Linked DNA regions of Homo sapiens: all the other regions are linked to region 4. Evidence: fine-mapped expression QTL. A gene starts in region 4. Each other region holds a variant in brackets. All regions are shown on one strand. Distances are between the middles of the regions. Region 1 overlaps SACS (sacsin molecular chaperone). Region 2 holds the start of LOC124903134 (a long non-coding RNA gene). Region 3 overlaps SGCG (sarcoglycan gamma). Region 4 holds the start of SGCG (sarcoglycan gamma).

The links. PIP is the estimated chance that this variant, and not a neighbour inherited with it, causes the effect.
Region 1: its variant is fine-mapped to the expression of SGCG in esophagus mucosa (GTEx, PIP 0.97).
Region 2: its variant is fine-mapped to the expression of SGCG in lung (GTEx, PIP 0.98).
Region 3: its variant is fine-mapped to the expression of SGCG in subcutaneous fat (TwinsUK, PIP 0.95).

What each region holds. Positions count from the first base shown.
Region 1 is chr13:23,346,941-23,355,451 of GRCh38, reverse strand. It overlaps SACS (sacsin molecular chaperone), which reads left to right. Exons shown (of 10, transcript NM_014363.6): 8 at 1-933; 9 at 1,576-1,667. Among named protein-coding and RNA genes, the nearest start is that of SACS-AS1, 68 kb to the left of the region's middle. The variant A/G (reference allele first, on the strand shown) is at 3,751.
Region 2 is chr13:23,155,078-23,163,544 of GRCh38, reverse strand. It overlaps LOC124903134 (a long non-coding RNA gene), which reads left to right and starts at 3,869. Exons shown (of 2, transcript XR_007063719.1): 1 at 3,869-4,379. It also overlaps a transcript of SGCG not described here. The variant G/C (reference allele first, on the strand shown) is at 2,690.
Region 3 is chr13:23,298,900-23,303,899 of GRCh38, reverse strand. All of the region lies in intron 6 of SGCG (sarcoglycan gamma), which reads right to left. Among named protein-coding and RNA genes, the nearest start is that of SACS-AS1, 120 kb to the left of the region's middle. The variant T/C (reference allele first, on the strand shown) is at 3,068.
Region 4 is chr13:23,178,046-23,183,045 of GRCh38, reverse strand. It overlaps SGCG (sarcoglycan gamma), which reads right to left and starts at 2,067. Exons shown (of 8, transcript NM_000231.3): 1 at 1,971-2,067.

The DNA.
Region 1 (8,511 bases), 170 kb before region 4:
ACAGAAAACATCTTGGTTGGTGTGTAACAGTGTGGGTGGGCGAGGGATCAGTAGTAAGCTTGACTCTTTAGCTGATGAACTGAAATTTGTCCCAATCATTGGAATAGCCATGCCTTTATCAAGCAGAGATGATGAAGCAAAAGGAGCAACGTCTGATTTCTCAGGAAAAGCATTTTGTTTCCTTCCTTTACCACCTGGTGAGGAAAGCAGCACAGGCCTCCCAGTTCACATCAGTGGGTTCTTTGGCCTTACTGATAACCGCAGGAGCATAAAATGGAGAGAGCTGGACCAGTGGAGAGACCCGGCAGCCTTATGGAATGAGTTTCTTGTCATGAATGTTGTCCCCAAAGCTTATGCTACTCTGATCTTAGATTCAATAAAACGTCTGGAGATGGAAAAGAGCTCTGATTTCCCCTTGTCAGTTGATGTTATCTATAAGCTTTGGCCGGAGGCGAGCAAAGTCAAGGTGCACTGGCAACCGGTGTTAGAGCCTCTATTCAGCGAGCTGTTGCAGAATGCAGTGATTTATTCAATTAGCTGTGACTGGGTCAGGTTGGAGCAGGTGTACTTCTCAGAACTTGATGAAAATTTAGAATACACAAAAACTGTGCTCAACTACCTCCAGAGCTCAGGGAAGCAGATTGCCAAGGTACCAGGGAATGTGGATGCTGCTGTTCAGCTCACAGCTGCCTCTGGCACAACACCTGTGAGGAAGGTGACGCCCGCGTGGGTGCGGCAGGTGCTGCGGAAGTGTGCACACCTGGGCTGTGCTGAAGAAAAGCTTCACCTTCTAGAATTTGTGCTTTCTGACCAAGCCTACAGTGAGCTGCTTGGGCTGGAGCTGCTCCCTTTACAAAATGGCAATTTTGTCCCCTTCTCCTCATCTGTATCAGACCAAGATGTCATTTATATTACCTCAGCAGAATATCCAAGGTAGGGGTCCCCCTTCTAACATTCCTGTTCACTCTTAGGGTTCCCCTGCTCCTGCTCACTGTGAGAGTCCTTTGTTGTGAAATTCAATGGTTTTCTATGTCGATTTTATAGTTAGGAAGACTTTTGCAGAAATACATTGTTAAAATACCAAAGGATACATTTTATATTCTAAAATGAAAAAGTATTCAAATGTTTATCAGTTGAAAAGTTATCTAAGCAGCTGTTTTTCTTGGAAATTTCAATAGCAGAACACTGAAAACAATGTTTATAAAGTGCAAATAATAACAAGGCCAGATTAGTCACTAATGAATTATTTTGATAATATTTAAATTCATGAAAAATAGTATATTAAGTAATTCTTTATAAACGAGAGTGTACTGACATTTCAGGAAATAAAATTAATTTTACTGTAAGATGTTGAGAATATTTCTGAATTTGAGTAAAGTACATGATGCCTTCACGTTTTAAAGCAAAGTCTAGATAATATTTGATCAAAAATATTGTAATTTGATTTGATGTGTGCATTATAATTTATGTAAAATAAAATAGTCGGCTTAACTGACTTGAAAATATGTGATTGTTTTTTTAAAATCTTGGAATTGTGGGAAGATTATGATGATTGCTGTTCCTTTCCCTTTTCAGGTCCCTTTTCCCAAGTCTTGAAGGAAGATTTATTTTGGATAACTTGAAACCTCACCTTGTGGCTGCTTTAAAGGAAGCTGCCCAAACCCGAGGTATTATAGTTTAGTATTCTTTTAAATAAACTTCTATATAAAAATACAAGTTTTTTAAAAGTTTTCTGTTATTCATTTTAGACCTATAAATCAACAATTTCTTATGGCTCAAGCTAATAAACTTTTTGTGTTTTAAGATATTTCAGTTGCCAGAATGGCATCTAAGAGATGCTGTCTAAAAGAATCCAGAGGTGATAAGTGTAAAAATCTCTCCTGTCATGGTGTGATGGTGTAGTCAACATCTTATACCTGCATGGTGCTTTACAGTTTTCCAGTGCTTTCCCATTTCTTTTTTCATTTGAGCCTCCCAGCATAACTTGTAGCTTGTTTGGTAATGACAGTGATTATTAAATTTCACAGAAGAGGAGAGAGAAAGGTTAAGATCAAGACCACCAGCCAAGTGCCGAGAGGTCAGGTCTTCCACTTGCCCTGTCCTTGCTCTATTTCTGACACCACTGCCCCTCCATGGTTTTATGTAGTTATGATGCTGGGTTTGCATTAGGCTTGATCAGCTTCTGGGAAGTGTGGACAAATCCAATTAACTCTGTAACAGGGGCAGGAAAAGGGTCTTGCGGGGGTCTTAAAGTGATGGGTGTCTGATAGGTGTCCTTTTAGGAAAAGACAGTAATTTTGGGAAAACAGTCAACATGGTTCTAATTTTAATACTACCTTTCAACTTCTGCAAGCATCCTTTTCCTTGTGAAACTGTTACCTGAGCTTTTTCTAAGTGAGATGTTGTCCTGAAAAGTTCTGGGTTTGTCCTGCTGTTCACATTGTCAAGCATACTCTGTGATGTGTCTTTTATGGAATGTACTTTTTTCTTGTCCAGGATAATGGCTTAGGGAAAGTTGCTAATCATTGTACACCTTTATTCATTAAAATATAAGTGAAATGAGTTGGAATGGGAGAGGCAAGTTAGGTTGGAGTTAAAGTGAGAGTAAAAGAAAATGAGTAGGCAAATGTTGTTTCCCATCAGGGATTTGCATCTATGAGTTGGTAGCTGTGAGACTGACTTTTCAAACGTCTGAGTTACTCATTTAATTGTAATTGTCATCTTCAAAACAACCTTTTTGAAAGTCTAAGCCTGGATTCCTATAAGCCTGCCAATCTTTGCTCTAACGATTTGGAACTCCTTTTTTTTTAATGTTGTATTATATTTTTGTTAAAATTTTGTGTTGAAATATAAGATGCATATAGAACAGTGCACATATCATAAATGTAGGCTTAGTGAAATTTTACCATCTGAACATACCCATGTAAACCTAGATCAGAACGCAGAAGATTACCAGAAGATTACACAGAAGATTACCAGCCCCAAAAGCCCCTCTCTTGCCTTTTTCAGTCTGACCATTCCAGGGTAGCCATGACACTGGCTTTAACAGCATAGATTCACTTTGCTAGTTAATCATGCTTTGTATAGAAGGAGCCATGTGGCATATATTCTGCGTCTGGCTTTTATTTGCTGTGATGCTGGTGAGATTCATCCAGATTGTTGCATGGAGCTGTTAACAGTTCTTTCTGATTGTTACGGTATTTTACTGTGTGGTTTATTACTTTCTTTTAAAGAAAATATTTTTGTTGGTGGCAGATCCTTTCTAAGGTGGATGTGGATTTGGAAATCGGCCAAAAGTTATTCAGGGCCAAATCAGGTGAGAAGGGTAGAAGGTCAGCAGAGCATTCTGTTTTTGCTCAGCATTTTCCAAATATCTTGTGGCACAGAGTGTGGCTACAACTTGCTTCTCTAGCCCTGGGTGGATGGGGCAAACCTGTTATATTTTTAGGGATGAGTTAAATGTATAAATTAATATAGAAAACTTGACATCTTTCAAAGTTGCATTTTCCCACTTTTATATGTCTTCATTTTCTCTACTATGGATTCAAGTTGTTATTTTGGTGTCATAATGAAACACTGTGTTTTGTCTCTGGTCTTGGTTAGTTTTCTTGGCATTGTGACACTAGATGTTCATCTAGTGTTTCTGTTAATCACACATCATGTGTGGGTTAGCACTCCCAGAAATTGTCTTGATGGTCACTTTTCTTTATCTAGATTTAAGAGTTAGGCTACTATTTTCATGATTATTTA[A/G]TAACCCTCATAACTAGCTGTATTAGTCTGTTTTCATGCTGCTGATAAAAACATACTTGAGACTGGGTAATTTGTAAATAAAAAGAAGTTTAATGGACTCACAGTTCCACATGGCTGGGGAGACCTTAGAATCATGGCAGAAGGCTAAAGCCACATCTTACTTGGCGGCAGGCAAAAAGAGAAGGAAAGCCAAGAGAAGGGGGTTTTCCCTTATAAAACTATCAGCTCTTGAGACTTAGTCAGTACCATGAGAACAGTATTCGCTACCACGAGAACACCACCCCTATGATTCAATTATCTCCCACCGGGTCCTTCCCACAACACATGGGAATTATGGGAGTTACAAGTCAAGATGAGATTTGGGTGGGGACACAGCCAAACCATATCACTAGCCTTTAAACTTTTTTAAACCAGTCATATGGGTATCTTCCCACTTATTTTTATCTGTGTGTTCCAGACAAAAATTAGTTTTTGATATAACTTTATTGCCATTAATGGTTTTAATGTTTTGAGAGCATGATGATATAGGGCCTTACGGGGAACCAGTAAGTGACACCTTGCTTTCCTTTCCTGAGTTGTGAGTCAGTGAAGACATAGTGAAGACATAGCAGAGGGATTGAGCAGATGGATGTCAGAAGCCACCTCTGTCACTGATTATTGTGATATTGGAGATTATAGCTGTGGCAGGCATTGGATTTCTATTGACTCCCAGAGTGAAATGGATTAGCTCACCAGTCTAGTCACAGGTAGCCCTGGAAAGCCACAGACTTCCTTCCAGAGGTCCTGCCCCTACTAAACATCTGTCCCTTTGAGTCCTGCTGAGCATGTGCAGATGCTTTTTCTCAACTTACCAATCATGTAAGTCATCTTGCTTTCTGGTGGTATGGGGCCTATTGGGGGAATTAGTGAGTACAGGAGAAGAAAGGCGGAGTATTATGTTTATGGAGCCCCCTTCATATATGGTAGGGAGCATCACAGACATGTAACTACATTTGATATTTTTTGCTCTACATAATGATTACTCCATTGCTTTGCTGACACAGAGCACTATGGAATTCTGTTTATGAGTGATCAGTAAACACTGATTGGCCAGTCTTGGAAGTACTACTGCATAAAATGGAAACATCATATGTTTTTTCTGATATGGAAACTTTTCCTCTAATTCTGTAGCTCAAACAAAATTTGTCACATTATTTAATAATTGTACCTTTTCCTTGTATTACATTTAAAATCCTTAGCTAAATATTGAGCTACTGCTTGTATTTTTAGTGTTTACTTCTACTGCCCCTTTTATTAGCAGTTAAATATGTTTCACTATATTTCATTTCAGGAAAAACAAAACAGACCTCCACCTTGATTTTCTTTCTTGTATTCTATCATAGTCCAGCTTCCGGAAAGAGTTGTCTTATTGTCTGTACTTCCTCCTTATTTATTATCACTCCAAACAGACTTTTGCTTCCACTGTCATTCCACTAAAATAGTCTGGCTGACGTCACTAGTTAATGATTTTTCTGTTACTCAGCTCAGTGGATTTTTCTGTTTCTTTTACCTGATCTCCCAGAAGCTTGGTATTCCTCTTTGAAGCCCTCAGCCATGATGATACCATTCCTTCTTGGCATTCACTGATTTTGCCTGCTTCTCAGAATTATTTGTGAACCTCTGTTCCTCACTTCACTCCCTAAATACGTGTTAGTGTGGGGGCTCCTTCCTCAGCTCTTTTACTTTGTTCCTTTCCTTGAATACATTCATCCACTCCCATGAAAGTGTTAGTGACCACCATATCTTCAGTCACCACCCTAGTCTTCAGAGAGGTAGTGTAGCAGAGATTAAAAACCTGGATTTTGTAGTTACCCAGATCTGGGCTTAAACTTCACTCCTCTATTGTGTGACTTTGAACAAATTTTCTACCCTCTCTGAGCCCCTGTTTCCTCATCAGTAACATGGTAATACAGTACTATCCTTCTAAGGGTATATCTCAAGGTCCCCAGGATTTGATTACAGAAAATTCAGGATTGCTTCACTGCAAGGATAATGAAATAAGGATTGAGCAGAGGATGGGAGCAACCACACCTTGCCAGTTGAGTTGTATCCAAGTTTGTGTTATTGCAGCAGATCAGGTTATTGAAAGCTTCATTGTAATATTTTACTCACAGCAGGCATTATGCTGAAGATCGAATGATGAATACGTAATACATATAGTTTAACATAATATCCGGCACTTAATATAATACTGACAAATGGTAGCTATTGTTAGCATTTTGCACTTGGAATCCCATAAGTATTTCAAAATCAATATTGCAAAACTTTAGTCTTCATCCTCTCCCCAAATCTGTTTCTCATTTTGAGTGATCCCACTGAAAATAACACTACTGTCCACAAGATTGCTCAAGAATGAATCCTTAAATTTTCTTCTTTGTTCCCCACAGTCTCCAGGATCTGTTGACTAAATTTTCTGTGCCAGTCCCTTGGTCTTACTCCACTGCCTATTACAGGTCCTCTAATTTCTCGTAATGTTGTTACTGGACTCTTGCAGTTGATGTCCCTGTCTACAGCGCTTGGGCTTCATCTGATCATGTCACCCTCCTGCTGCAGGTTTTCCAGTGGACATTGAATCTATCAGGATAAATCTAGCCCTGCTAGCATGAACTAGGGGACTTTCCATGATTGTAAACTTCCATGATTTTGGAGTGCTGTCTCACTGGCCTTGGTGCATGCAAGCGCCCTCTTCTGTTCTAATTGCCCTCTTCTGTTCTAATTATACAAGCACTTGTAGGTTGATGAACTTGAATCCTCCCTATATTTCATGAGAGCAGAGAGACCTGTCAGATTTGTTACCACCATCTAGCACAGTGCCTACTTCAGTGTAGGTGCTCAGTATTTTTTTTCCTGCATGAAAATTTTCTCATAGCTGCCCTTTTGTACATGGTGTTCCTTTTGCTTAGAATACTTTCTTTCCATCCTCTACTTTGCCCAGCTAATGTTTATTCATCATTCAGTACTGAGCTCATGTGTCACCTCCAGGAAGCTTTCTTTGACATCTTGCCCTGTGCCTCACCCCTGCCCTGCAGTCTGAGGTGAATGCCTCTCTTTTGCTCTTGGAACCCAGTACATAGTCCATATGATCCTCTTTGCTTTATTAGAATCATGTTTTTACTGTGCTACACTGCAACATCCTTGAGAGCAAGGGCAATCTTTATTTTTATATTTCCAAGGTCTGGCCGAGAGCCTGCTTGCCAAGTTTGACTGGATAAGTTGATGCTTCAGCTGCTGGGCTGGGTGGGGACCGCATGGAGGAGATGGGGCGCAGAGGCCAAAAGGCAAATCTCTTTCTTAGTGTCTGTGAGTTAATAGTTCTCTTCAAATCAGTGTCTTCTGTAATCTTGTTTATTCTTTACAACCATGAGATAATAGAGCCTGTATCTCCATTTGAGAGATTGAGACATTGAAGCTCAAAGAAATTGAGGGATTTAAATGACTTGCTTGAGTTGCAGAGTTGAAGCTATGATTTTTGTTTTTTTAATTTCCAGGTCTGAATTATTTCTGTATTAAGTTGCTTAAGTAAATGGATGGATATCAGAAATTGGAGAATAGTTAGAAGAGCAGGTAAATGGATTTTGGATGAAGAAAAAGGAAACAAGAACAGTTTAGTGGTACAGATGCTTGGTGTCGGGTCTTATTTATAATTTTTAAAATTTTCATACTTATTTATTAGATGAGACCAAAATCCGTAACCTTTCCTATGAGGCACTTCATTAGCTGGCTCCATTTTCTGGGTGTTATGAAGATGCCTGGTACATGGAAGGTTCTATTGATATTTGCTATTTTTAATCTCCTTCCCTTAGTTCCATGCTTTTTCCTGTTTGGAGGACAGCATGTTCTGTCCCTCCCTCAGGTGTGATACATGTGGCTTCCTTGCCAACTCCTCCATTCACTACCTCTGCTCATCTTTCATGCAACCCATGTGTGCTTCCATGCTCTGTTCTCCATGGCACTCACACACTGGTACCTGTTTAAGTATTTGTAATAATTTATCTGATACTTGCCTTCTCCATTAGACTGTAGGGCCAGGTCTGGGACCATGTCTAGTTGTCCATTTCTATATCTCTAGCACTCAATCAGTATTGCCTAACTAACAAGGTGCCTGTTGCTAAAGTGATTAGAATGATGTTAAGATGAGAAGAATTGAGTTTCTTTGGTTACACCTTTGCTCTCTATCTTAGCTACTAGTTTAGTTAGCCTAAGGGACCCAAATACACAGAAATCTCACAGAACTGTAGCAGTCCAGTTGATTAAAAGTTTCTTGCTTCATTCAAGCAGAGGAGGGATAGATGTTCGTGGAACAATTCTTAGAAGTTTGTAATTATTGTTGGTTACCATGGACAAGCAGTGGAAATAGATGATAAAATCTCTTTTTCTTTATTATAAAGTTGGAATTAATTGTACACTTTGTGTAGGTACTCCAAAACTTTTTAAAAATTAAAAATTTAAAAAATCAGGTTTTTTAATCTAGAATCTCTGAACATGATAGCCTGTGCAAAAAGCTCACTGGTAGCTTATCAAATGACGTTATGCAGCTATAATGTAATTTGCGCATATGAAGTCCATAATTCTTTCTTTGCTTTCTTTCTGAACCAACACTCCTGACTCTTACGTACTTCGATTTAGTTTGCACTGAAATATAGCTTTAAATCTTAGATGTGTATTCTGCTATGTTTGGAGTTTTGTTTCTGGGTTTTCTTTTACATAAGGATCTGTAAAGAT
Region 2 (8,467 bases), 21 kb after region 4:
TCCATGCTGGGATTTAATTTAGGTGATCCCACTCAGGGGTCCAGAACTGGGTCCCCTCTTCAAACCAAGTCTGAATTAGGTATTAACCTAATTGAAATTGAGTCCAAATTAGGTATTAGGTCCAGACATTTTTCTAGACAGCAGATCTGTAACTATTACCAGATTCTCAAAGGGCCCCAGGACCTTAAATTACCTTGGAAAGTATCATTTTACCCTTTTCTTACTTTACCTGCTGTTTCCTATTCCGGCATAAATATTTCCCTCATATGTAACAAAATGAAATGTCAAAATGCATGTTGCTAAGGTAGTTAATTTTATTTCCTAATTTTGAAGATGTCATGTTTAGAAATGTATATGCTAGTTTACTTTAACCAGGGATCCCTGTATAGAAAACATTGTATTGTTACCACTGTCAACACACAACCAATTTTTTTACTTCACATTTAACTACAGAAAACCTACGAAAATTGGCATTCAAAAAATACAAGGTACCATCACTTAAGTATGAATTATTGTACCACTATTATCATGTCCATATAAATCATTTTCCTACAATTTTAGAATAAGAAATAAAATTATCTTTATCTTTTTTAGTTAACTATAACCATGTCCCTAGACATTTATGTATTTTACCCACAGTACAATAAGGTCTCTTGTAGGACACAGTCTTATTTTTTAAATTATTTATTTATTTATTATTTATTTATTTATTTTTGAGACGGAGTCTTACTCTATCGCCCAGGCTGGAGTGCATTGGTGCGACCTCAGCTCACTGCAACTTCGCCACCCAGGTTCAAGTGATTCTCCTGCCTCAGCCTCCCGAGAAGCTGGGACTACAGGCGTGTGCCACCACACCCAGATAATTTTTGTATTTTTAGCAGAGATCGGGTTTCACCATGATGCCCAGGCTCGTTTTTAAGAGACGGAGTCGTGCTCTGTTGCCCAGGCTGGAGTGCAGGGGCCTGATCTCGGCTCACTGCAAGCTCCGCCTCCCGGGTTCACGCCATTCTTCTGCCTCAGCCTCCGGAGTAGCTGGGACTACAGGCGCCTGCCACCACGCCCGGCTAATTTTTAAAAAAATATTTTTAGTAGACACGGGGTTTCACCGTGTTAGCCAGGAGCCAGGATGGTCTCCATCTCCTGACCTCGTGATCCGCCCACCTCGGCCTCCCAAAGGTCTGGGATTACAGGCGTGAGCCACCGCGCCCGCCCAGGATACAGTCTTAAGCAGTAAACATCAAGTGAGAGTCTGACAAATAATAAAAAACCATTCCTAAGATAACATAATGATGCTGATTAAAATGTAATAGTGTGTGTATATATGTGTATACATATTTAAATAAAAATGATCTTAAATATTACCAACCCACAATTTATAAAATGTTACTTTTAAAATGGAGTATTATTATCCTGGTTATCTCTGAGAGGTGTTTTAGTAGTTTTAAAATGTAAATAAATTATTTGTACAACGTGAAAGTTTATTGATTTTATAGTCTGTTATGTAGACTAGCTAGGCTATGTAGCTCTGATCATTTGAATTTATTAAATGAGCTATTTATCACTACCTTTTTTCTGAGATTTAAGAAAGATTGACAGAGTACAGTCGTGGCACATGTGAGGCCACGGTGTTAAGTGTATCATACACGTTAATTATTTACGTGTAACATCCACTAAATATTGTGTCTGTCTGATTCAGCAAAAACATTAAAGATGAAAAGAACAGAGGACTTAAGTACAATATTTGAAGATATAACTGCTGTATAACTTTAAAAGTTTACTGTAAGATATTTTAACACATGTGGATGGATGCCTGCTTGCTAGTCAATTTGGAAGCATATTGTCATGAAAGGAAGTTTTAATACCAGAGACACTGAACCTGTTAGCAAAAGATTACGTCAACAAAAACGAAGATTTTAGCTTATGTGTACTTTTGGAATAGAATTGTGCAATCTCTTCTTTACAGCTTCTTTACAGTCTGTTCATATCAAAGGAAGAAAAGCATGGGAAGACCCATATTACATTGAAAAATGTAAATACGATTCCATTGCTTTATTAGCACCAATTTACCTGTGTTAAGGAACAGCCAGGAGTATTAGTACATGAATAGTACGGATATACATGGAGCGCCAGCATTACAAAATCCGCCTGTACAATATTATCACTGGATGAGTAGATGTTTCACAGATCAACTGGCTGGTGCCGTGCTAACATTCAGAAACATCAGAATACTCGGTAATGATGTAAGAACAAGCAACTTGCTAACGCTGATGTAACCAAGTGACAGCATGCAAATATGTAAATATTAATTAGTGGTACTTAATGGAGGTAATGAGTATAAGGGTGGTGAGGATCATCAAGTTATTATGTAATCCCATTGAAGACGACAGAGCCCCGCTGCTGCGCTTCAGTTCCCCTCTAAAACCCCCAAGTAACCCCTACGCAACTTTGCACTTGGTGCAGACACTCCGCTTACTCAGTGTTACAGACTCCCCAGCAAGCAACCCAGGGCAAAGTTTTTGGCAAAATCATTTGCAGAGAACCAATTCACTCTGATTCTCTCACACCACACACACGCACACAGGAAGTTATTAAGTCTCATTGCAGAATGAGGATCAGTTAGTGAAGTCTTTGGGCAAAGAAAAGCCAACTGTCTAAATTACATTTTACTCTTGTCCCTGAGCCCCCACAA[G/C]GGGGCAGGGGAAGGAAAGTGCTGTCTGGGGCAGAGAAGGCGAGGAGAAAGAGGGCACGGGTGGTGATGGAGTCCTAGGAGGAAGGCTGGAACCGGCATAGGGACGTCTAACAACAGAGGGGTTAGTTTAGGAGGTTGGAGGAGAAGGAAGGGACCCAGGAATTGGGGGAACTGAAGGCGAAGTGGCGGGCCGTGGCTATTCTCTTTACCTGCTGTACTTCTTGGAGTCCCGGGGCGCAAACAGCCGCTGCATTTCCCTTCATTCCCGACGGGATGACACCACAGTCTTCTCCCCAGACAGCGCGGGCCTCTGCTCCGTCCTTCCTCAGCGACCGCAGCGACGACTCTGCTCCAGGGCGGGGGAGCAGCTTCCCAAGCCGCGGGCGCCCACTTCCCCGCCCGGACTCCGGGCGGTGCTGGCCGGGGCGCGCGGGGAGGCGGGGACCAGGGACCCCCCAGGAACTAGCCTGGGCTGCTGCACCGCTGCCAGGGCCGTCCTGCGCCTAGCCGAGCCCAGGGCGCCGCCGGCTGGACGCCCGTCAACTCCCACTGCGCCCGGCCCCCGAGCGCGCCCGGCTGGATCCGGCGCGCCCCTCCGCCCCAGGCGCCGCCAAGTCCCAGCACTATGCGCCCCTCCAGATGTCCGAAAGCGCCTCTCCAGGGCAGCCTATGTCCCTCTGTGTCCTTCCCGCGACGGGCCGGGCCCACCACTCCACACCTCCCGGGTCCTTCCATGTCCATCACCGTGTGCCTCTCCAGCATCCCCCCTCCCCTCCAAGTTCCAACATAGCACTCCTTCACATATTCCCCGCGTCGCTTCAGAGGTTCCTCCAGCCACTGCCCCGCCCCTCCACTTTTCCAGTTTCTCCAGTTCTATCGAGGCGCGCCCCTCCAGCACGTCCCCACCCCTCCACTCCCTCCCCGCGTCCCTGCACTCCCTCCCCGCACCCCTGCACTCCCACTCCGAGCCCCTCTGTGACCAAACACCGCGCCTTTCCAAGCGCTCCTCCTTCGCGCCGCCCCAAGATTCCCCTCCATACCCTGCACTCCTTCCGCACCCACCCACGCACCCCTGCGCGCCTCCACCCGGCGGCCTCTCCACCCTCAGACTCGCCCCCGCGATCCAGCGCGCGGGGCACTGGGCAGGGACATTTCTCGCTCCCACGCGAGTCCTTCGCTGCAGACGCTGGGTGCCTTCTTTCCAACCCAACTACTCCTGCTGAACGCATCTTGGGCTTGGAGCGCGGGACCACAATCTTTACACTTCTGGCCCTCGTCCTTTACTGTCAGAAAGGGTCAGCACCTGAGGAGATTTAGATAGTCCCTCTGGAGGGAGTGGTTCCATTTGCGAGCCTTTAAAAGTCTTGCCACCCAGCCTGTCCCCCGCAAACCCCTTGGGTTTATCACAGTTTACTCACTCTCGCGCAATGCTAGTTCTCCATCCGCCGCTAGGAGGCACCCCGAAGGGTTTGCTGTGGTGAAAACAATGCTGCATGCAGTTTATGCTGCACTTTAGTTAGCTCTTGGAGGCGAGCTGGGAAATAGTGACTGCTGATCCATGGACAAAGAAGCCGCTTTTTACTATGTTCTATTTTCAAGGCCTGAAGAAGTTCTCTGTAGCACATAGTAGTCTGGAGTTGGTTCCTGCCGGTGGGTTCGTGGTCTCAGGAATAAAGCCGGGACCTTCGCGGTGAGTGTCACAGCGCTTTTAGATGGCACGGACCAAAGAGTTGGCGGTACCAAGGTTTATTGTGAAGACCAAAACAACAAACGTTTCACACTGTGAAAGGAGACTCCAGCCAGCATGGGGGGCAACTTTTATTCCCTTATTGTCTCTCCCTCCCCTGCCCCGCCCCCATGTTGCTTTTCTGTCCTACCAGAGTGCCCTTTTTTCAATCCTCCCCATGATTGGCTACTTTTAGAATCCTACTGATTGATGCGTTTTACAGAGCGCCAATTGGTGTGTTTTACAGAGCGCTGCTTGGTGTGTTTTACAGAGGGCTGATTGGTGTGTTTTACAATCCTCTTGTAAGAGAGGAAAGTTCCTCAAGTCCCCACTTCACCCAGGAAGTCCAGCTGGGCTCACCTCTCAATACAGTTTTCTAATTAGTGCTTGTGTATTTAACTCACTTATTTATTCGTTGACATTCTCCGTACACATGCATCACGGGGGAGCATCTTGGTTTTACCAGCTTTGTGTGAATGGTATGGGTATCTGAAGATGTTTGGTGAGTGTGCTAAGGAGGTAAACTTTCAAATATATTCCCGAAAGGATCATGCTGGTGTATTTTATGATTTTTTACAGTAAAAATCTGGTACCATATTTGGGACCAAGTAGAAACATAAAGATGTTGGACCGTTTTAAAATGTTTTTAATGTAACAGAATGGATAACTGCAAGGCAGAAATGTTTACAACTTCTAGATTACACTTTTTAAAAGCAAACTTTTGCAAAGGTAGAAATTGAAACGAGAAAAGCCAATTTTCCAGAAGTGTCCAGTGCAATACTTCTCTAATTACTTCTCTCTCTTATAGTTGATAGACAGTGATAATCATTTTCTAAAAATATCCCCCTCAAGGAGCAAAGGATAAACAAGATGGATATAGAGATATATTATTAAGGGTATATTAATAATTTCCTACATATTTCACAGGCAGCAAATGACAGATATTGTGAATTATTACTCTAAAAATGTCCGTACTAATCAGTAAAGGCTGCAGTTTAATATTTCTGCCAAAGAATTCAAAAGTTATTAATGTGTTTTAATTGCCAAAACTAATCTGATCTCAGAGCCAGAACTTCTCCTTTGTTGGCTTAGAAATAAATTATTAGCAACAGTTTGTGCTGGTGATGACGATCGCAGTGGGGATCTAGAGAACTTATGAGTCCCGTGATAAAAAGCTAAATATATCCGAAGTGGTGTATGAAAACAACCAGGGGTGTGGGCAAGGGATACCATCTCCAGACTGGACCGAACATCTTACCAGTAATAAGAATTTTGAGCAACTCAATACATGTATGTTTATTTATAAGTTATATGCGTTTATGAATTTATTGTATATTTTCTGTGAATGCCAATATATTGTTTATATTGTAAAACAGAAAGATAAATTTTAAAAGGATATATGAAAGTACATATAAATAAGAAAAGCAAGGAGGCTGAGGCAGGAGAATCGCTTGAACCCGGGAGGTGGAAGTTGCAGTGAGGCGAGATGGTGCAACTGCACTTCAGCCTGCGCAATGGAGGGAGACTCCATCTCAGGGGAAAAAAAAAAAATCAAAGAAAAGCACTGGAATGGTGACATGCAGATCTCTCTGTAGATCCTCTCCCCGATGAAACAACTCTACCTGATCGAACTATTTTTATTTTATTTTGAAATTTATTTTTAGCTGTAATGAACTTTATTTTTTAAAATTCTGATGATGTAATTGTTTTTTTTTTTTTTTTTTTTTGAGACGGAGTCTCACTCTGTCGCCCAGGCTGGAGTGCAGTGGCGCGATCTTGGCTCACTGCAAGCTCTGCCTCCTGGGTTCACGCCATTCTCCTGCCGCAGCCTCTGATGATGTAATTTTTAAATTTCAATAGTTATGTGGATGAATTGTAGAGTGGTGAAGTCAGAGGTTTTAGTGCACCCATCACCGAGCCGTATACATTGTACACAATATGTAGTTTTTTATCCCTTGCCCATTTTCTGGCTTCTGAGTCTCCAATGTCCATTCTACCACTCTGCATGCCTTTGTGCACCCATAGCTTAGCTCCCACTTATGAGTGAGAATATACGGTATTTGCTTTTTCATTCCTGAGTGATTTCACTTAAAATAATGGCCTCCAGCTCCATCCAAGTTGCTGCAAAAGACATTTTATTCTTTTTTGTGGATGAGTAGTATTCCATGGCATATATGTACCACATTTTCTTTATCCACTCATCAGTTGATGGGTACTTATGTTAGTTCCATATCTTTGCAATTGTGAATTGTGCTGCAATAAGCATATGCGTGCAAGTGTCTCTTTGATATGGTGACTTCTTTTCCTTTGGAGTAGATACCTAGTAATGGGATTGCTGGATTGAATGGTAGATCTACTTTTAGTTCTTTGAGAAATCACCATACTGTTTTCCAAAGAGGTTACAATAATTTACATTCCCACCAGCAGTGTATAAGCGTTCCCTTTTCACTACATCCACACCAACATCTGTTGCTTTTTGAGTTTTAATAATACCTACGCTGGCTGTGGTAAGGTGGTATTTCATTGTGGTTGTAATTTGCAATTCCCTGATGATTAGTGATGTTGAGCATTTTTTCGTGTTTTTGGCCATTTGTACATTTTTCTTTTGAGAAATGTCTATTCATGTCATTTTCCCACTTTTACATGGGTTTTTTTTTTTTTTTTTTTAGACGGCATTCTCGCTCTTTCGCCCAGGCTGGAGTGCAGTGGCGCTATTTCGGCTCACTGCAAGCTCCGCCTCCCGGGTTCACGCCATTCTCCAGCCTCAGCCTCACGAGTAGCTGGGACTACAGGCGCCCGCCACCGCCCCCAGCTAATTTTTTGTATTTTTAGTAGAGACGGGGTTTCACCGTGTTAGCCGGGATGATCTCGATCTCCTGACCTCGTGATCTGCCTGCCTCGGCCTCCCAAAGTGCTGGGATTACAGGCGTGAGCCACCGCACCTGGCCTTTTTTTTCCTTTTTGATTAGTTTCAGTTCCTCATAGATTCTGGACTAATATCCTTTGTCAGTTGCATAATTTGCAAATATTTTCTCCCACTTTGTGGGTTGTGTGTTTACTCTGATGATTATTTCTTTTGTGGTGCAGAACCTTTTTACTTTAATTAGGCCCATGTATTTATTTTTGGTTTTGCTGCATTTGCTTTTAGGGTATTAGTCATAAATTCTTTCCCTAGAGCCATGTCCAGAAGAGTTTTTTCCTGAGTTTTCTTCTAGAATTGTAATGGTTTCAGGTCTTAGATTTAAGTCTTTGATCCACCTTGAGTTGATTTTTGTAGTTGGTGAAAGAGATCCAGTTTCATTCTTCCACATGTGGCTATCCAGTTTTCCCAACACCATTTATTGAATATGGTATGCCGTCCCCAATTTATGTTTTTGTATGCTTTGTTGAATAATAGTTTGTTATAAATATTTGGTTTTATTCTGTGATTTCTGTTTTCTTTTTTTGATGGAGCCTCATTCAGTCCAGGCTGGAGTGCAGTGGCGTATTCTCGGCTCACTGCAAGCTCCGCCTCCCGGGTTCACACCACTCTCCTGCCTCAGCCGAGTAGCTGGGACTACAGGCACCTGCTACCACACCCGGCTAATTTTTTGTATTTTTTAATAGAGACGGGGTTTCACCAAGTTAGCCAGGATGGTCTCGATCTGACTTCGTGATCCTCCCGCCTTGGCCTCCCAAAGTGCTGGTATTACAGGCGTGAGCCACCGCGCCTGGCCTGTTTCTGTGATTTCTGTTCTGGTCCATTGGTATATGTATCTACTTTTATATCAGTACCATGCTGTTTTGGTTACTGAAAATTGTTGTTGTTGTTTTTTAAAACTAACTAAAGCCTCTGGAATCATCCTAAGGGCATACAGCAAATGGAGAAATATTTATTTCTAAAATCTAACAAATATTGGTAAAAACAGTGTGAGTTTGTGGCATTTGAACCACTACCCACTCAGTCCCCACCCCCAACTCAGTGTGATGGAAGCTGTACTCTTGGTAGGTGTGGCCAAGAAGATAGACTCCCTCTACCCCAGTTACCAGTCCAGGATTTTGTTTTTTTCCAG
Region 3 (5,000 bases), 120 kb before region 4:
AGGAAAATAGAATTTATTGTAACAATGCTAGTGTGCAAATTGGTATACCTCAATGGAGGGGAAAGTCACCGAAAGGGGAATTTGGCATTATCTGAGTAAACAATATGTGCATTTATCTTTTTCACCCATGGATTCCTCTTCCAGGAATTTATCATGGAGCTATATCTCCAACAATATGAAAATTTACCTGCACAAGCACATTGTAAATAAATCAGGTGCCCATATATAGGGGAGCAGTTGAAAAACCTCTGATACGTGCATACCTGGGAACTTGTATGTGATTTCCGGAGCTCTTTCCTGGCATATGCCCTCTTCTCTGATCCTGTGCCCCACAGACTCCATTAGCCTCAACTCCCCACTCTCGGATCTCTTTCTCCTCCACTCCCAGAGGTTCCCGTGCACTGACTGGATTCCCCTTCCCTGTGCCCTGATTCTGAACATGCCTGTGGGCAGAGAGCTCGGGCAAGTGTAGGGCTCACCTCATTAGTTTCTGTCTTGTTTTGCACTTCGTGCTATCCAGTGTCTGAAAGTGGTTGTTTCATATATTTGTCAAGTGTTCTCCTGGTTACCAGAGATGGTGCATCCAGTCCCAGTTACTTCATCAGGGGCAGAAGAGGACTGTTGCCCTGAACTGCCAGGCTGGGAGCTTGCAGGGGTTCCCCTTCCCAGATCCTTTTTAACAATCTCCTTCTCCCACTTTATAAAGAAAGACATGCTCATTGATTCTGAATCGATTATGATGTATTACACTGGGGTAGAAATACTTCCAGGGGTAATGTGCAAGGGAAAATTAAAAAATTGGTGACAGAATTGACAAATTGAATGACTACAGTGATTACGAGGTAATCATTTGGCAAGTTACACAGTTTCTAATTCTTTACTTTCAACAAAAATTGAAGAAAGACCTAATGAATTGTCGCCGATAGTCATTACAAATAACTTTTAATGGTGTATATTTAGGGAAGAGTTCAGAACGTAGAGTGACTTTTTAAAAAATAAAACTTTTTGATTCATACCTACTTACTTATGTGAACAGGCTCCTTGGGACATCTACTTAAAAAACAGGAAAGATATTGATGCCTGATCTTGACTCCTTCTATTAATAAGCTATATTTATTAGCAGATCTATCAAATAGTTTTTAAAAAGTTCCAACCATTCACTAAAAGATGTAGTTTTATACAATTTTACTTTTTGTTACTATCAAAAATCTTAATATATTGATTTTTTCTTTTAAAAATTATTTTTAATTGATATGTAATAAATGAACATATTTATGGAGTACAGAGTGATATTTTGATACATATACACAATATGTAATAATCAAATCAGAGTAATTGGCATATTTATCACTTCAAGCATTTATGATTTCTTTATGTTGGGAACATCTGAAATTCTCTCCTTTAGTTATTTGAAAATATACAATAATGGGAGGAGGAGAGGATAGGGAGGGGCTGGCTAATAGATACAAAATTACAACTTACATAGGAAGAATAAGTTCTAGTGTGCTATAGCACTGTAGGGTGACTACAGCTATACTGTTTTGATCAATTGTTTTCTCCTTAAATTATGACTCTATCCAAAAGAAATTTTAAAAATTCTATAGTCACTAGAAGTAATTATATATATAATTATATAAATATATTTCTTGTGGAGAAATAGGATAGAGTGATCAATGAAATACTGTCAATCACTAAGTAGTGTATATTGGGAAAAAATTTTGGGTAAGTGAACTGTAAGTATTAGGTCAAGGACAAAAAGAAAACTTTTCTGACTCCATAAGAAGAGCTTGTTTGTATGTTTTTCAGTTCTTTGATGGTGGGCATCAAATATCCATGCTTCTTAGATTCCATCCGTACGTTTTAAAAAGTAATGAAAATAATTTTATTTCAAAATGATTTATGTTATTTAAACCATAAAAGGTCATCATTGCTAAACTGACTTGGTAAATATTTCCTTTTATCATCAAGTAGTGTTCCCATTGATTTTTTTTCTTTTCTTTTTTTTTTTGAGATGGAGTCTTGCTCTGTTGCCCAGGCTGGAGTGCAGTGGTGTGATTTCAGCTCACTGCAACCTCTGCCTCCCGGGTTCAAGCGAATTCTTCTACCTCAGCCTCCCAAGTAGCTGGGATTACAAGTGTGCACCACTATGTATGCCTGGCTAATTTTTCTATTTTTAGTAGAGACAGGGTTTCTCCATGTTGGCCAGGCTGGTCTCAAACTCCCGACCTCAGGTAATCCACCCGCCTCGGCCTTCCAAAGTGCTGGGATTACAGGCGTGAGCCACCGCGCCGGACCCCATTGATTCTTATTAATGCTATTTCTTTCCTAATTTTGATTCTGTCTGCTATTAATATCGCGATGCCTACTTTCTTTTGGTTAGCATTTCCCTGAACTTTAGGCTGCTCCAAGCCCCATCTTCACCATTCCCTGGCCCAGCCCTGGGATCAGCCACTTCTCTAAGAAGTCCCGGTTCCTTGGAGAATGGTATGAGAAACAAAGTTCTGGGGGCCAGTGATTTTATTTTAATTACTTCATGTCTCATTTCTATAATTTCTATTTTGTTATTTCCCAAATCTGCCATTTTTCAAAATATCTTGTCTTTGTCTTACATTTCTATTCATTTTTTCCCTCATTTCTATTCATTTTTTTCCTCATTTGAGCATTTTATTTATACTTGTTCTAAAAATCTCTTTGCTTTGCTCTATGACATAACAGTTCCAGGAGATTATTTGTAGCAGCTGCTAATTCTAATTCTTCTCCATGGTAGTTCAATTCCTTTTTTTTGAGATGGAGTCTCGCTCTGTCGCCCAGGCTGGAGTGCAGTGGCGTGGTCTCGGCTCACTGCAAGCTCTGCCTCCTGGGTTCACGCCATTCTCCTGCCTCAGCCTCCTGAGTAGCTGGAACTACAGGTGCCTGCCACCACACCCGGCTAATTCTTTTGTATTTTTCGTAGAGATGGGGTTTCACCGTGTTAGCCAGGATGGTCTTGATCTCCTGACCTCATGATCTGCCCGCCTCGGCCTCCCAAAGTGCTGGGATTACAGGCGTGAGCCACCGCGCCCGGCCC[T/C]TTTTTTTTTTTTTTTTTTTTTTAGTAAACTAGTCATTAGCAGGTATTGTTTTCCTTAAGTGTCTTTATGTCATGTGTGATGGGATAACTTCTTCAATGTCGTTTCTCTCTGTTTTTAAATGGTTCTATGAGTTTCACAGACTTTGGTGCAGTTTTTACTGTTAATTTGCCACCTCGGAGTTCCTATACCGTGAAGTAGTATGCGTTTGCTTCTACCTCGGCCAGGCAACGGCTTGCAGGTCATGATTTCTTGTGGGTAATTTTTCAACCCATGGCCTAAAATAGCAATCTTTCTTGTGACATCGTTGGGCTGATGGGCATATTGTGTGAAATACCTGATTCATGGGAGGTCAGGATTTCGGAGGTTTCTCAGCCAGGGTGTTTCATGCACACTGAACAATCACTTGGAATCTCACTCCCACATCAGCATTAATGTCTCAGCAGCTAGTCTCTATGTATCCTGATTTCTCTATGAGTAGCTTAGCTTAACTCTTCCTCTACTCTGACCATGAGCTGCCTCTTTATTGTTGGGACCTGGGAATTACCCTTTCTTGGTTTCTAACTGAGCTTAGTATTTATAAACACTTACTAGGTAAACTTTCGTATTTGCAAGTGCTTGCAACAGGTGCAAATGTTTCCATCCACACAGTAGTATATGTGTATCTTCCTTAGATAAGTAGATGAACAGACGTGGAAATAATAACTTACTTAATTGACATCACATCCTTATGGTGTTACACAGAATTCAACTCCTCCCTTTTCTGGGGTATCATCCCAGATTACCCTGGGAAGATTTTATATTTATTTGCCTATGCCTCCAATAGAAGTTGTACTTTTATCATAGCAGTTAAATATACTTTTCTAACTTGTTTGCAAGTTTCTTTTCTCAATAGACTGTAAACTCATTGAGGTCAACGACCATGCCTTTTATATCTGGCACATAAACACTTTAATACACTTTTGCTGACTTTTTAAAAAAGAATGAATTACATCATGTGTGAATGCAAGGTTGCTTTAAGGTAGTTTGTCAGCGTTCATACTTTCCTTGCAAATGATTTTGCCATAAGAAATGTAAATCTAAGGCCGGGCACGGTGGCTAACGCCTGTAATCCCAGCACTTTGGGAGGCCGAGGCGGGCAGATCACGAGGTCAGGAGGTCAAGACCATCCTGGCTAACACAGTGAAACCCCATCTCTGCTAAAAATACAAAAAATTAGCCAGGCATGGTGGCAGGCACCTGTCATCTCAGCTACTCAGGAGGCTGAGGCAGGAGAATGGTGTGAACCTGGGAGGTGGAGCTTGCAGTGAGCCGAGATCGCGCCACTGCACCCCAGCCTGGGGACAGAGTGAGACTCCGACTAAAAAAAAAAAAAAAATATATATATATATATATATATATATATATATATATATATATATATATATGCCAACTAAGATATTCCAGAATCTTTTTACTGTAATCAGGCCAGGAATAGTAATGCTGCTGGAACCAGAAATAAAAAGTGGAACATAGTTGATGGCAAGAAGTTGCAGAAGAAGAAGATATGACCATCATATAATCAGTCAGAGGCATCTCAGTGTAAATCAAAGAATCAATCTCTCAAGGATCCGCTGGGTGGTGGAGACAGCAAACTGGATGTACATGGGCTCTGGAGTCAAAGCTGGATTCGATTATGAGTGGCTACCTTTTTAGTTTTGTGACTTACAACATGGAACTATCTAGATCTGAGTTTCTGCCTTTATAAAATGGGGATAAAATTGCCAATCACTTCATAATTAAATGAAACAAATTCTGTGACAGCACTGAGCACAGTTCCTGGCAGTCAAAAGCATTCAGTGAATGTTAGTTCCCACCTCCCATCCTCACCACACTCCTCGAGCATTTCCTTGCAGTTTTGTTATTTTTTTCAATTGCCTTGGTTTTAACACTCAA
Region 4 (5,000 bases):
TTAGACTTTCCAGAGATGTTTCTCAAGTAAAATTAATTGAGCATTTTAAAAACAGAGTTAAAGAAGTCACGAAGGTGAAGCTAGGTTTTAAGGTACTCTTCACTGCCGCCTCCACTGCCCTTAATCCATTCTCCATGTCAACTGCAGTGATCCTTCCAAAGCACCCATGTGACTGGGCTGCTCTCCTTTTCTAGAGGTTCAAAGGTCTCACTGGTGCTTAGGATGAAGCACAAACGCCTTTGGGCACAGCAAGCCCTCCTGTCCCCATTCCTCAGTGGTCCTACCCACCAGTCATACTGAAGTCGAGCAGGCAGTGAGATTTTCACAGGTTCTGAGAAAAGTCTTGAGACCTTTACCATTCACAAATTACTAAATACTCCTGTACCAGTGTTCCCATAAAACTATCTACAGCATAACATATAAAATTAAAAATGAAGCTGGAATCCAAAATGGCCAAAGTAGCAAGTGATGGATCCTGCAATCCTCATGAGAACGTCGTAGAACTATCTGGCCCTGCAGTAGGTCTGGAGAAGAATAAAGCCAGACAGGTGCTATAGAGGCTGAGAGAAGGGGAGGGAGGGAGGGAGAGACAGGAAGGTGTCATGAAGGTCAAGGTGGGTTCTGAAGGAGCAGGAGAGTAGCAGAGTCATCCTCAGGACGCTGTAGTTTCTCCCCTCCCACTGGGAAACCACAGCCCTGGTGCCTCAAGCTGAGAAGACACAAGCGCTGTGATGAGCCACAGATTAGGGAGTGGAGGGAGATCCTCAGGCCCTATAAGTTATGCAAAACTGAACACATTGGGAACCCACTATAATTTACAACTATCATTTAATTTTTAATGCAATTTAATAACAACTTAGTTTAATGACTAGCAAGTACATTTTTTAAAGGACAATATGGAACAATTTCATTTTCCGCATTTTAACTGCAAGCTTAGCTGATATCTTTTGGACACCTGAATTTGTTAGTCTTTGGAATGCTATATCTAACTACATTGAAATGCTACTTTTCATTTGTCTTTGAAAGACAATCTGAAATGAATCCTAGAACCTATAAAACGAACCCCAACTTGTAGCATTACTTTTTAAATTCCACAAAGGTGCCTTTTTGTACCTACAAAATGTTTGCAAGAAAATAAGCAAAAAACAAACGGTGTATTCCGTAGTTCGTTTTTGTACTGGTCTGCTGGCAAATCTTTCAGTCAGCTGAGTTATATTTTTCCGTATTATTTTTTTCTAATCCTTCCTTTAAAAAAATTGTGTTTGCTAGTTGTCATGTATTAATTTAGAAAACGCAAAGAAAGAACTCATAACTTCAGTAAGCTGAAGCATTAGCACATGTGTACTTTTACCCCACTTATGTTTATTTTTTCATACATATTTTGAGCAGTATTTTATATTTTCCAGATTTAGGGAAAGAAACATTCTTCCCTTTTCACTCCAAAAATAGTGAAGGAGTCAGGTTGCTATTTTGCTCTTGTTTTGTTTATTTCCAACTTATAAAACCACTGGACTTTTGTTGTCATTCATTTTAGTTTATTTCTTAGTGTCTATAACAAAACTATCAAGAAAATCTAAAGCAAATGTAATTCTACCACTAAAGTTTAAGAGCAGAATTAGAAGTAGGTGATCTTAAAGATAATACTTTGTTTAAATTAACTACAGGATCCAATTCAATGCCCAATAATACAGAAATGCTACCTTTGGCATTCTACAAATTAAAAATGTTAGAAATATAGGATTATGCTAAAAATATGTAGCATATTTGTAGTCAGAATAACTTAGTTGAAATGAGAATTTCATTGATACTTGATATGTCATTATGTTGTGATACACCAATTTATTCAACATTATTTTAAATTTATTATTATGCCACCAAAGAAGAAAGAATATTAAGAAACCTCTTAAGCGTTTGGTTTTTAGGTAGTACTTTGTACTGATATAAAATCTAAGTTAAAACTGAGCACTTACCTTAGATATTAAGAAAAGCACACTGGCGAATGAACTACAGCTGGCCCGAGCTCTACCACAGACAGAATGTTTCAAACTTTTCTATGACTTACAGAATGAGAGCAAAGGATGAAGCTTCAGCAACTGTCCCTGGAGAAAGGGCTCTCACGAGTTTCGCCCTGTCTCATGTTTCATCCCCTCACATTAGCAACAGACGTGTCTAATTTTACTCAGTGACATAAACAGTTCATACCACACTTAAAATTTTTTGGGCACCAATTCCAGGACACAGCTCTTCGCATGCCAAAAACAAACCAAAACAAACAAACAAACAAGAAACCAAACTCTTCTTCTTACAAAACCAACTTTCCAACATTTAAACCCTAAAGCATGATAGTTTAATGTAATTATAACTTTCTTAAAAAAACTTTACCTCAAACAAACAGCAGAAAACTTCTAAGACTGGTTTCCATTAGAAACTAATGTTGATAAAATTTTACGAAAAATCTCTTCAAATTAACATGCAAGTTAGAACTTGTGACTATTACCTATATACTAGTCTCATCCAAATGAACGGCATATTACCATGTAACAGTGACTCTTTAAAAATCACTTTCCCTAAGCCTCTTTAAGTGAAAAACTTTTAACATCTGAGGAGAAAATCTTAAACAAAGATCACCATAATAGAAGGTAAACAAACTCTGCATGTTAAAATTATGACAGTTCTTTTCTAGTAAACTAACATTTCTATTGTGTTTAACAAATTATGTGAATGTAACAAATGTGACCTTAAATTGTCTTTATGTTTATTTAAGAGTAATTAGGTCATTCCATTTTATAAGGTGTAAAGACAACAGAATAAATATCGAACTTCTGAATAATTTTAATATTTTATTTTGCATTATTTTTATGTGACCTGGTTTGCAGCAGGATTAAAACTTACTAAATTATATACTTCATATTTGCATTTTAGTACTAAACCTTGAATATAAGAAGCAGTGCCTTAGTATACATGCACACAGAGATGGGAACAATCAGATACTGGGGCCTGCTTGAGGAAGGAGGGAGGGAGAAAGGTGGGGTTCGGAAAACTGTCTATCGGGTACTGGGCTTACTACCTGGGCGATGAAATTATTTGTACATCAAATCCTGGTGATATGCAATTTATCTGTGTAACAAACCTGCACATGTACCCCTCGAACCTGAAATAAAAAATGAAGAAAAAAAGGAGCAATGCAATAACAATGCATATGCTTCATTCTCATTTTATTTTCTTCTCAGGAGACTTTTCTCTTCATTCTGCTTATTTATACTCTACCATAATTTCTTTTGAAATTTGATACTTCTATCATACCAGCAGCTGCAGGCCTTAAATTACAAGCTGATACAGCTTCAAATAATCTTACATTTGTAAGACATTTTAAAACCTTTCATGAATTCTCTGCACATTAGTACTTCTACTTTGGGAATTCAGCTAGACATAAAATTATAGGACAACTATCAATTTTAAACAAAAATAATATATTAAACAATAATGATATGAAATGTATTTTTGTATGAGTGTATGTCTGAAAAGTCAAAGTCTGAAACTGCTAACTCAATATTCTGATTGAAATGTCATGCATGTAAAGGTTACAATTGAGATACCTCTTCATCAATCGTAAATTGGTTTTGTTGCAATGAACTTTTCAGTGTTTTGGGAACTGCTTTGTAAAAATGTTAGTCAGGTGATGTGTTTGATCCCCACTCATATTTACAGATTCATTTAATACTATCCACACCTATGTTTAGTAGGGCAGAAGAATCACATAAAGAAGCCTTTGATTTTATCAGTTAGTTGAAATTATTAAAGCAAGACCTTCAGTTTGTAATGTAGGCAGCTTAAGTTTGTAACTCACACACACACATTTTGAAATGTTCTCAAAGGAATCATAATACTTTAAAGCTCCAAGAGACCTTAAAGAAATCTAGTCTAACAGTCATTTAGGTGTAAAATAATTTGTTCCAGATTACAAAGCTAGTAAGCCTATGGGTAGAAGTGACTTTGAAAGTCCTTAGGCCTAATTTGGTGCTTGGGTGCTCCACTGTAAACGTGCTCCAACCATGGTCCTACGAACCTATGGGGACCTTTCTGGCTTCCCCCTCATTCTCCCTCTGCTTCCATTTTTGACTACTGCAGTCATCAGTTAGCGCTGACCTTTCTTCCTGACACCATCTCATCAAGCTCTTCCTTCAGTTTGGGCATTGATAACCCTGTTTCTGGCTTAAGTGGTTGGGTTCGGGGGATCACTTTCAGAACCAGTGAAAACAAGGAATTTCAGTAGTGATGTCGTCAGTTTTGGAGAAATCATTTCTATTTTGAGATGAAGTAAGAGGTGAGGTTATCTGTAGAGAGAGAATGTGGAAATAGGGGAATGAGAAAGTTCAACATTTGAAAATAACGGAGTATTTTAATGATTTGGGTTGTCAATTGACTAGTGAAACATATTAGGCCATGTCCAAGGCCCAAATGAAGTTATAAATATATGGATAGTAGTCTCATTTTAATAGTTCTCATGACGTTATAAGCTAACTGCAGTCATGGATTACTGTGACTAAATCCCTCAAAACTGCTCAGCCTTTCCTCCAATACAACACGCATTGTCTCCCCACAATTCCTCCAATACAACACCCACTGCTCTTTTGTCCATCTTTCCTTCCTCGGTTGACGATGCCATCCCCCAGAATGTCACAGAAGACAGACTTAGGGCTCTCCCTCACTCACCAGTCTACCAGTCACTAACTTCAGTGGATTCCCTCTGCAGAACCTCCTGCTCTGCTTGCCTTCCCTCCTTGCTCCTGCCTGACTTGGAGATTCACCTTCTCTGGCATCACCTATTGCTATAGCCAAGTACCTACTTCCTCTGCTTCCGGGAACTGCCAGCCCCCATCCTACACACCTAGGGACTGCCAGAGGAATGATGAGAACAGGTAATTCTGTCCATATCACTCCTTGGCCTAAAGCCCTTCATCAAGCCTCCAGGTGCAGGACCAAGTTCTTGACCTGACACA